Linked DNA regions of Homo sapiens: regions 2 and 3 are each reported to be linked to region 1. The links are microRNA targets in miRTarBase. Many come from high-throughput screens and were not tested one by one. Region 1 holds a microRNA gene; each other region holds the end of a gene's coding sequence.
The links. The annotated mature microRNA hsa-miR-5008-3p reads CCUGUGCUCCCAGGGCCUCGC and lies in region 1 at 2,159-2,179, opposite strand. An mRNA with a match to its seed (bases 2 to 7 or 8) in the 3' UTR can be bound and repressed. Matches are read on the target gene's strand: a 7mer-m8 pairs with bases 2 to 8, a 7mer-A1 pairs with bases 2 to 7 and ends in A, and an 8mer does both.

Region 2: the mRNA of SRSF3 is a reported target of hsa-miR-5008-3p. Seed matches in the 3' UTR shown: 7mer-A1 at 2,339-2,345 and 7mer-m8 at 52-58.
Region 3: the mRNA of ASB11 is a reported target of hsa-miR-5008-3p. The part of its 3' UTR that is shown has no 7-base or 8-base seed match.

The regions. Positions count from the first base shown.
Region 1 is chr1:227,939,452-227,942,451 of GRCh38, forward strand. It overlaps MIR5008 (microRNA 5008), which reads right to left and starts at 2,232; the gene lies at 2,139-2,232. The region is part of intron 1 of WNT9A (Wnt family member 9A); the gene reads right to left. RefSeq lists an enhancer at 2,679-3,000.
Region 2 is chr6:36,601,605-36,604,604 of GRCh38, reverse strand. SRSF3 (serine and arginine rich splicing factor 3) reads right to left here. Exons shown (of 6, transcript NM_003017.5): 5 at 2,811-2,897; 6 at 1-2,643. The coding sequence ends at 2,616. Among named protein-coding and RNA genes, the nearest start is that of SRSF3, 8.7 kb to the right of the region's middle.
Region 3 is chrX:15,281,012-15,284,011 of GRCh38, forward strand. ASB11 (ankyrin repeat and SOCS box containing 11) reads right to left here. Exons shown (of 7, transcript NM_080873.3): 7 at 686-2,618. The coding sequence ends at 2,494. Among named protein-coding and RNA genes, the nearest start is that of ASB9, 12 kb to the left of the region's middle.

The DNA of each region.
Region 1 (3,000 bases):
CTGGGAGGACCCACTCAAGACACCTTGCCCTGAGCCTGAGGGCAGCTAAACGGGCCTTGTCCCCAGAGAGAACCTGAAACACACAGGGACAGCCACCCCACACTGCCAGGTCCCTAAAGCCACAGGCTCCTTCCAGCTCCCAGCACAATAGACAGGAAGTCCTACGGAGGGAGCACACATCACCAAGGCCGGACTCCGACCTTCCTGCCTCCTGCCAGCAGGTCTAGCCACCCTGACCGGGACCCAGCTTTCTCCCCCAGGCTGGGGCAGAGGGAGAAGAGACTGCAGTTCCAGAAGCCACAACACCCCGCCAGCAAAACCTCAGTCCTGCCAGACAGCGTTTAATTTCTGTGTGAAACAAAATCAAAACAAATTCTAGCACTGAGAAACCGGGGCTGAGATCAACTCTCCACCCTCCCCGTGGTCTGCAAATCAACCCAGCCCGAGCCCAGCTTCCAGCCCAAGCACGTCTGCTGTGTCCCTCAGGGCTGCAACGCCACCAGGGCCCAGCTGCACCCAGGAGGTGGGGCACATGCCGCAAGGATGGCACGGGTGGCCTGTGCAGATGCCCAGGTGCCTGCCAGGTGAAGCATCCTCGGGCCTGAGAGAAACACCCCCCTCCACCCTGCTGAAAGCACCGTGTCCCATGGCAGCCCCTGGAATAAGCCCTGCCCTGTCTGTGTCTGCAGCATCCATGGGGTCCCCCAAACCAGACCACAGAGGCCAGCCCAGCTCCCCCAGGCTACTTGGGCTGACTGCCCTTTTCTGGGGCAGGGTCCTGGACCCCAGAAGGGGCATGGCTGGTCTGTGGGCTGCAAGACAGGCAACCAAGGCTGCACGCAGGACCCCCCGGGGGAAAGGTGAAGAGCAGAAGCTTCCAGGAGGCCTCTGTGCTCAGTGACCACAGCCCCCCATGGCCTTCCCAGACAGCCGCAGACCCACACAACTGGTCAGCAGGACAGGGAGAGCCACGCAACCTTCCAGTGGCCACCAGTGTCACCTCCCACACTGTCATCCCTTCTGGAGCTCACTCTCCTGTAGGTGTCACAGAGGGAGCATCCCAAAGTCCACCTGGCTCCCCTCCCCACCCCACAGTGACTCCAGGTCTGCAGCCTCTGTCCCCATCTGGCCAGGAGGGACGCCGGCCCTGACGTTCTCCAGCTCTGGGAGGCTCTGGCAGCAGCTCCTCCTGGGCCAGACCTCCAGCCCACTTCCCCTGGCTGCACTGACCTCAGGTATCGCTAAAAAAAACAAATGCAGCCTGCGGCTTGCCTTTTTCCATCGTCCCATCCGGCCACTGGTCCTGAGGTGCTGCAACTGCCAGCTGGACAGCTGGGCTTCCTCTGGCGGGCAGCGGCGCCCAGCCAGCCAGGACCATGCCGGGAGGGCAACAGGCTCCTGGGAGGGCCCAGGCTGCAGGTCACGGGGCCGGGGCGGCCCAGTGCCACCCAGGTCAGCAGGCACAGCAAGACCATCCCCAGCCACCTGCCACCCTGCCCGGCCTGGACCACGGATGTGCTTGAATATGACCCCTGAAGGAAAACCAGGGTCACGTCCCCGCCGGGGCTGCACTCTGCATGGCTGCTCTGGTGGGGCCATCAACACCTGGCCTATCGTCCACACACGGGAAGGTGCGGCAGCCTGGCAGCCAGGTCTGCACTGCACTACGTCTGGCCACAAGTGTAGACACAGCCCTGCCAGAGTCAGAGTCCTGTAGGACCCGGGGCTGGGCTGCCAGGTGAATGAGTGACACAGATCCACCTGGCAGGGAGAGCCTCAGGCTTGAGGGAGTCTTGGGATAGGAGGGCACACAGAATGCAGCTTGGAGAAGACCCCACAGGGACCCTTCTGGCCAATCCCAGAATTGAGCGACCAGGGAGAGAAGGATGCATCTGAGGAGAACACAAGGGGACCCTCCTGGCTGATCCCAGAGTTGAGCGACCAGGGAGAATAGAATGCATCTGAAGAGACCCCACGGGAACCCTCCTGGCTGACCCCAGAGTTGAGCAACCAGGGAGAGAAGGATGCATCTGAGGAGACTCCATGGGGACCCTCCTGGCAAACCCCAGAGTTGAGCATGCAGGGAGAGAAGGAGGCATCTGGGCAGTCACTGGGCTTCCTGCAAGAAGCAGCAGCTGGGGCCGACCTCAAGGGACAGGCGAGGCCCTGGGAGCACAGGGGAGATGGCACCACTGTGCCCCAAGGGCCTCACCTGACCCTAGGGGTCAGCCCCATCAGAGGTCAACTTCCAGCCAGAAGGCATGGGGTCTGGGGAACCCCCACTCGTGGCTGGCCTTCTGGGTTCTGGGGGCCTGGCTCAGTCCCCAGTCCCACAGACACTGCTGCGGGAGCCACCCTGGTCCCAGACAACTGCACCGGTCCTGACCCCGCCGCCCAGCACAATGCACAAAGGGAGCCCGTGCCGCAGCTGGGATCAGGTGGCGCGACCGAGGCCTGTCAACAGGTGTCGCTTTCCCGCAGCCCCCACCCTCCCACAGGCATCACCTCCTCCCTGCCCCAGGGTCCAGAGCCTCCAGGAGGTATCCGTGCCTGTGTGCTCTTTCCTAGGGGAAGAGTCACCCACACGCTTCTTTGATGGCCAAACCCCAGAGCAGGGCACCCCCAGCCCGGGCCACCCCAGCAGCCGGCGGAAGGTCCCAGGCCAGGGCAGGCACTGGGGCCCTCTGCAGCCTGCAGCAGGGCGGGAGCAAGATGAGGCCAGCTGTCTCCCCAACCAGACGTCCGCCGGCTGTGGACAGGACATCTGCTCCCTCAGCTGTGGCAGGCCAGGCACTGCTGCTCCGTCCTTACCACACACCCTCCACACCCTCCAGGGAGCCAGGACCCCCAAGCAGGTGGGGCAGGGAGAGGCTGGGGGTTCCAAGGCCCCTGGGTGCAGAGCAGGAAGGAGGAAGGCCACCAGCGCCTGCAGGGGCCATCAGGCTGACACTCCAGACCCTCCCACTTACGGCCCCACTGTCAGGGAAGCCAAGCACCTGG
Region 2 (3,000 bases), not on the chromosome of region 1:
GATCACGTTTGTAAGGATCTCTAAGATACTCAAATGGTAGACACAGGGTACCTGTGCTTGGTAAAACTACAACTTCCCTACTTTCTGCTTAAGACATGGAGGTCAGAAGCAACCCACAATGAACTGTGAACCAGAGATCAAACTAAATATTCCTTTTAATAGAAATGTGAATCTTGCCATGTTGGGCAGACTGGTCTCCAACTCCTGGCTTCAAGAGATCCTCCCACCCGCCCTAGCCTCCCAAAGTGCTAGGAATTACAAGTGTGAGCCACCACATCCAGCCAGTGTCTTTGAAAACAATCAAATATAATCCTTAATGTTTCTTTACATTGTCATCAAGTATTAGTAACAGTGACTTCTAGTGAACACCTTGATCCTTAAACCACAGGTCTAAGTTCAGTTTTGTGATTCCTTTCATTTTTACACTCAACCCTGAATATGGACAAGACCGGTTAGTGTGACCTGTTATTTTAGGAATTACAACTTTAAAAATTCCTAATAGCCACAATCTAAATGTGCAATTCAAAGCTTTTAACAATTTCCATGTTCTAAAGTTTCTAAGAGTCTTGAGGTTATGCTAGGGCTCCTGGTTAAAGTAACTGCCAACTGGGACTGTATGTCACCTAAGTCAGGATAACTCCCTGGTGAAGTTACTTTTATTTCAGGTTCTGTATTATTTCTCTTAGCCATATTATACCCGTAACTGTCCTTTTTACAGAAACCCTTCCAACTTAAGAGCCTGCAAGGAAGTCATATACTGCCCAAAAATGCCCACATAAGTTGTCCATTTATAAAAAGCAATGTAATTGACATATTGCATGGCTTCCGTAACTTCTTAGCTATCTTGGCTTGTTCCTAACAGGAACAGGTTGTAGGCTATGTGAGAATACTAAAGACAAAATGCCCAATGCCAGAGCTCTCAGTAAATAAACAGGCTGTCTGAAAAGTGTCTTTCTTGAACATGCTTAACTTTAAGGCTGAACCTTCCTGACACCAATTCTCCCAAGATTTGTGTAAAAGGTGGAAATAAATAATTTGTTTAGGAACTGTATCTTAATGTATCCATTTAGCTTGAACTCTTAATGCAATGACTTATCTTTCATATTTAAGACAGTCAATACCGCATAATCCAAAACTATCTTAAGAGCATATTTAAGGAAACTAAGCCACAAGACTGTTGCATTATGATTTAATCTAATTGCACAAAAATTTGAAATTACAACACCTGCCATTTTCTAAGAGGAAGGTTATGCATGCCTCCATATTCAATTCTGCACTGTTACATTTGAACCATATTGTGAACTTTTACATCATGATGGATCAGCTTAGAATTCCCATGCAACACCTCAAATTATAAAATGGAAGCAATTTTTAGACCTGTGGAAAGTTTTCATGCTAAAGATAAAAGCCATTTGTTAATGGGCAACTTACTTTGTGTTTAAGAACCAGGTTGCTGCTATACTTTAAAATGTTGGTCACTAAATATTATGGACCCTGAACTGGCTTCTATGCCTAAAAAAAAAAAAAATGGGTTAACTATCACTTAGGTGACATCTATATTTCCTTCACTTCAGAAGACTAATCCATAGTGCCTCTCAGCTGTTTCTTATAAAATAAGAATCGTGTAACCAACTGCTTCCCATGGGATAAGAACAATGGTAACAGTGGGTTCAACTGACTATACACAATTATGCTAATATTTTATTAATTCAAAAGCACTTTACAAGAAAATATAAGTATGGCTTCCAATAGGAATGTTATACCTGGACTTGGTACCAAGCTCACAGATTTGAGTTTGCAAGGAAAAACAGGCTTTCAAGTTAAAGAACAATTTGTAACCAAAACTTTAATCCCAAGGATTCTCACAAAACATATTACAAATGACAGCATGAAAAAAAAATCTTGCACAGTAACTCAAAGTTCGGCTCTACAATGTACCCTTAAACTGGCAGGACATTTTTGAAATCACAAATTTGCACATAAAGAATGTCACGAACAGCCATGTATCCATATACAGCAATCAAATAAGGAACTTATGACCTAAAGCAAAGGTAAACTTTCTTGAAACTTAACATTCTATACCAACTAGGCAACCTCTGCCCAGGATGAGAGTTGGATTTTTCAAAAACCTCTAATTTAATAGTGCAGCATTTCGTTTTCCCTGATGGCCTGTGTTTCACAGCAGTTTTTAAAGACTGCTTGTTCAACTATAGCTGCAGCCTATATCCCAGCTATGGAAAAAAAAGTAAATCTTAGTTCAATTTTTGCCAGTTGTTTCTGTATTTAAATTTAAAAAAAAACACACTTCCGCTGGGCAGGTTTAGAGGTTTATTATCAGTCTGTGCATAACTAAAAGTTCAAAGCAAATTCAATTTTGCTTAAGGGAACATTGTAAAGTAACAATTCTTGGTATTACATGCCTCGTATGATCCATTTCAAACCATAGAGAATTACACCTTTGTGTCACTGTTTCAAGAGACAAACAGATTTGAACAGCTAAAACATCTTAAAAATGCACCAAGCTTATGAAGTCTCAAACAAAACTTGAATTTTCTGTACATACTCCTGTCAAATGAAGTAATTTCCTGTACACCACTTCTCTTGCAAACTGTCTTCTATTTCCTTTCATTTGACCTAGATCGACTAAAAAAAAAAAAAAAAAAAGAAAACAAAACATTACATCTGTAACTTGGTGACACTTTAGTGACATATCGAAATAGAACTTTAAGGTAAAAAATTTATGGCTTAGAAGACAGGCCTTAGCATACTATGTATGCAAAGTCTTAAATACAAGTTATCAAAGATCTTACCTACGAGACCTAGAGAAGGATCGGGACGGCTTGTGATTTCTCTCCCGAGACAGCGATCTCTCTCTTCTCCTATCTCTAGAAAGGGACCTAAACAAGCAAAAAAACATTAGGACCAATGAGGTATGATAAAATTATACATAAATATTTTCTTGATCTGGCATGGTGACTCATGCCAATAATTCCAATATTT
Region 3 (3,000 bases), not on the chromosome of region 1:
TGGTAAAACCCCATCTCTACTAAAAATACCGAAAATTAGCCGGGCATAGTGGCAGATGCCTGCAATCCCAGCTACTCCAGAGGCTGAGGCAGGAGAATCGCTTGAACCTGGGAGGCAGAGGTTGCAGTGAGCCGAGATCGTGCCATTGCACTCAAGCCTGGGTGACAAAAGCAAAACTTCGTCTCAAAAAAGAAAAGAAAAGAAAAAAGTTCATGTATTTCATATTCTTTTTTTTACTCAGTCATTAAAATGTAATATGTATTTTACACGTGCAACACATCTTAATTCAGCCTAGCCACAATTCCTGTGCTCATTAGCCATATGTGGCTAGTAGCTACCGTATTGAATAGCACAGGCTTAGAGGTTGCAATGAGCCAAGGTCATACCATTGCACTCGAGCCTGGATGACAAAAGTGAAACTCCGTCTAAAAAAGAAAACAAAACAAAGTTCATAATGTTTCATATTCTTTTTTTACTCAATCACTAAAATGTAATATGTATTTTACACTTACAACACATCTTAATTCAGCCTATCCACAATTCCTGTGCTCATTAGCCATATGTAGCTAGCAGCTACTGTATTGAATAGCACAGGCTTAGAGAAGGGTTTCTCACTCTTGGCACTATTGACATTTTGTACCTGATAATTCTTTTTTTTGTTTGTTTTTCTTTCTTTCTTTCTTTCTTTTTTTTTTTTTTGTTTTGAGACGGAGTCTCGCTCTGTCACCCAGGCTGGAGTGCAGTGGCGTGATCTTGGCTTACTGCAATCTCCGCCTCCCGGGTTCAAGTGATTCTCCTGCCTCAGCCTCCCAAGTAGCTGGGACTATAGGCACCTGCCACCACGCCTGGCTAACTTTTGTATTTTTAGTAGAGACAGGGTTTCACCATAGTGGCCAGGCGGTTCTCGAACTCCTGACAGTGCGATCTGCCTGCCTCGGCCTCCCAAAATGCTGGGATTACAGGCGTGAGCCACCATGCCCGGCCAGATCTGATAATTCTTTGTTGCTGGCTCCTGTGCACTGTAGGGTGATTAGCTGCATCCCTGATCTCCACCGTCTAGATGATAGTAGCAATTCTCCCCCAGTTGTTGCAACTAAACATGTCTGCAGACATTGACAAATGTCTCAGTGGGAGTGGGGCAAAATTGTCTCCAGTTGAGAGCCAAAGGTCTAGAAAAATTGGGGGAAAAAAAAACATGTGTGAAATGAGTCTTAGGATGATCTGAGAGGGAATTTTCATTTTAGAACTGAATACTGAACCATGACAGTAATACTTACAATAATTAAAAGTCTATCCAGTTCCCATGTTCTAAATTCACAAAAAAGAGAAAGAATAGAGGAAGAGGAGGGGTGACAGAAGGAGAGAGAAATGAGAAGAAGGAGAAGACAGAAAAGGAGAAGCCTCTTTTTATATACCTTTGTGCTTATTTTGGGCCCCTATCCACAGAAAAAAATATTGACCCAGCATTGAGCCCACTTTGGTGGCTGGCATCAGTATGTAATTATTTCAAAAACCCTGAGCATCTTGACTTTGAAAATAAGCCAGTGCTTGGGTTGCAACATGCCTCAGACAATGCCTGTGGGTTCAGGTTGTTGGGGACACCCAGTGTTCTCAATCCTAGAACTGCTTACTTCAAATAACAGCATTTAATATCAGAAGCAATAAGCAATAGATGCCAACCTCTGGGTGCACTGATCTCTTCCAAAGTCTCTCTTATCAACCAGGACCGCAGTAACTGGAAGCCTCAGTTAACTACAATGTTTCTGAAGTCCTTAACTTTATATATGTATATATATATAAAGTCTATATAAATATATATAACTTTATATATAAAGAACTTTGAAAACATATATATATAAGCTTTATACATATATTAAGGACTTTGAAAACATATATGAACTATATATATTAAGGACTTTGAAAACATTAAATATATGAGTGCATGTGTGTGTGTGTATATATATACGTATATATATATACGTATATGTATGTATATATATATACGTATATATATACAAAAAATCAAAATTATACCAGATTTATTCAAGGAAAGAAAGAAAAAAAGTGGGGAAGGGCTGAAGGAAGGAACTAAATCAAGAACATATCTTGGAATACCTAACATTTGTTATAATCTTATCCACCTGAATTTATATGTGTCTATACAATATTCAGAATGTTGACTTTTAGGTACAAGAAGATCCCGAATCATCAAAAAACAGCCTATTGTTTTCACTCTACTTCACAGTTCTTTTAAGTTTCTTAACAACAAGAGCTAAAAGCTAAATGGTTTCTACTTGCCCCTTGGTTAATGAGAACATTAAACTAACCAGGAGTTTCCACTCCTCAAGTGTTCTAGCTCATGGGGGATTTACTTCGACTGAGCTCATTTAAAGATACTAGGAGTCTAAGCTGTTGAGCTTCTACATTAGGTACTCTAGGTACAGCAGACAACAATCTGTGTCATTCCAAGTATCTTCCCAGGAACACTTAGGACTATTGGTATAGGAGGAATCGTTCGAGTGGCTCTGGCAGATGTAGCTTGTGGATGGCTTGATGACATGCTCGACCGAGACACTTCCGGACACACAGGCGGCAGAGCTGGGAAAGAGCAGGTGGGCCTGAGAGAGAAATAAAAATGGTGTTAACTTCATAGTGGTGGGAGGTGGGGTGGAAGGGGGAAATCAGAGAACTGGAAGAGGCGGAAATTTTCTAAAAGCAGAAGAGAAGCTGGATCTGTATAGGAACTATAGAATGAGGTAGCGGACACTAAATACAGACAGCAGATCCTGATTTGCCCCTCTGGAAGGGATGCATTTCTTTAAGTTAATCTTCCAATGGTACTTGGATTACCAATGTTGAAGAATGAAGCTAACCAGAGGCAAGTTAGGAATGAGGTGTGGGGTCTAAAGGGAATGCATCTCATTCATGTATTGAATGTGCCAATGAAAGTGATACACGGGGCCAGGCACGGTGGCTCACGCCTGTAATCCCAGCACTTTG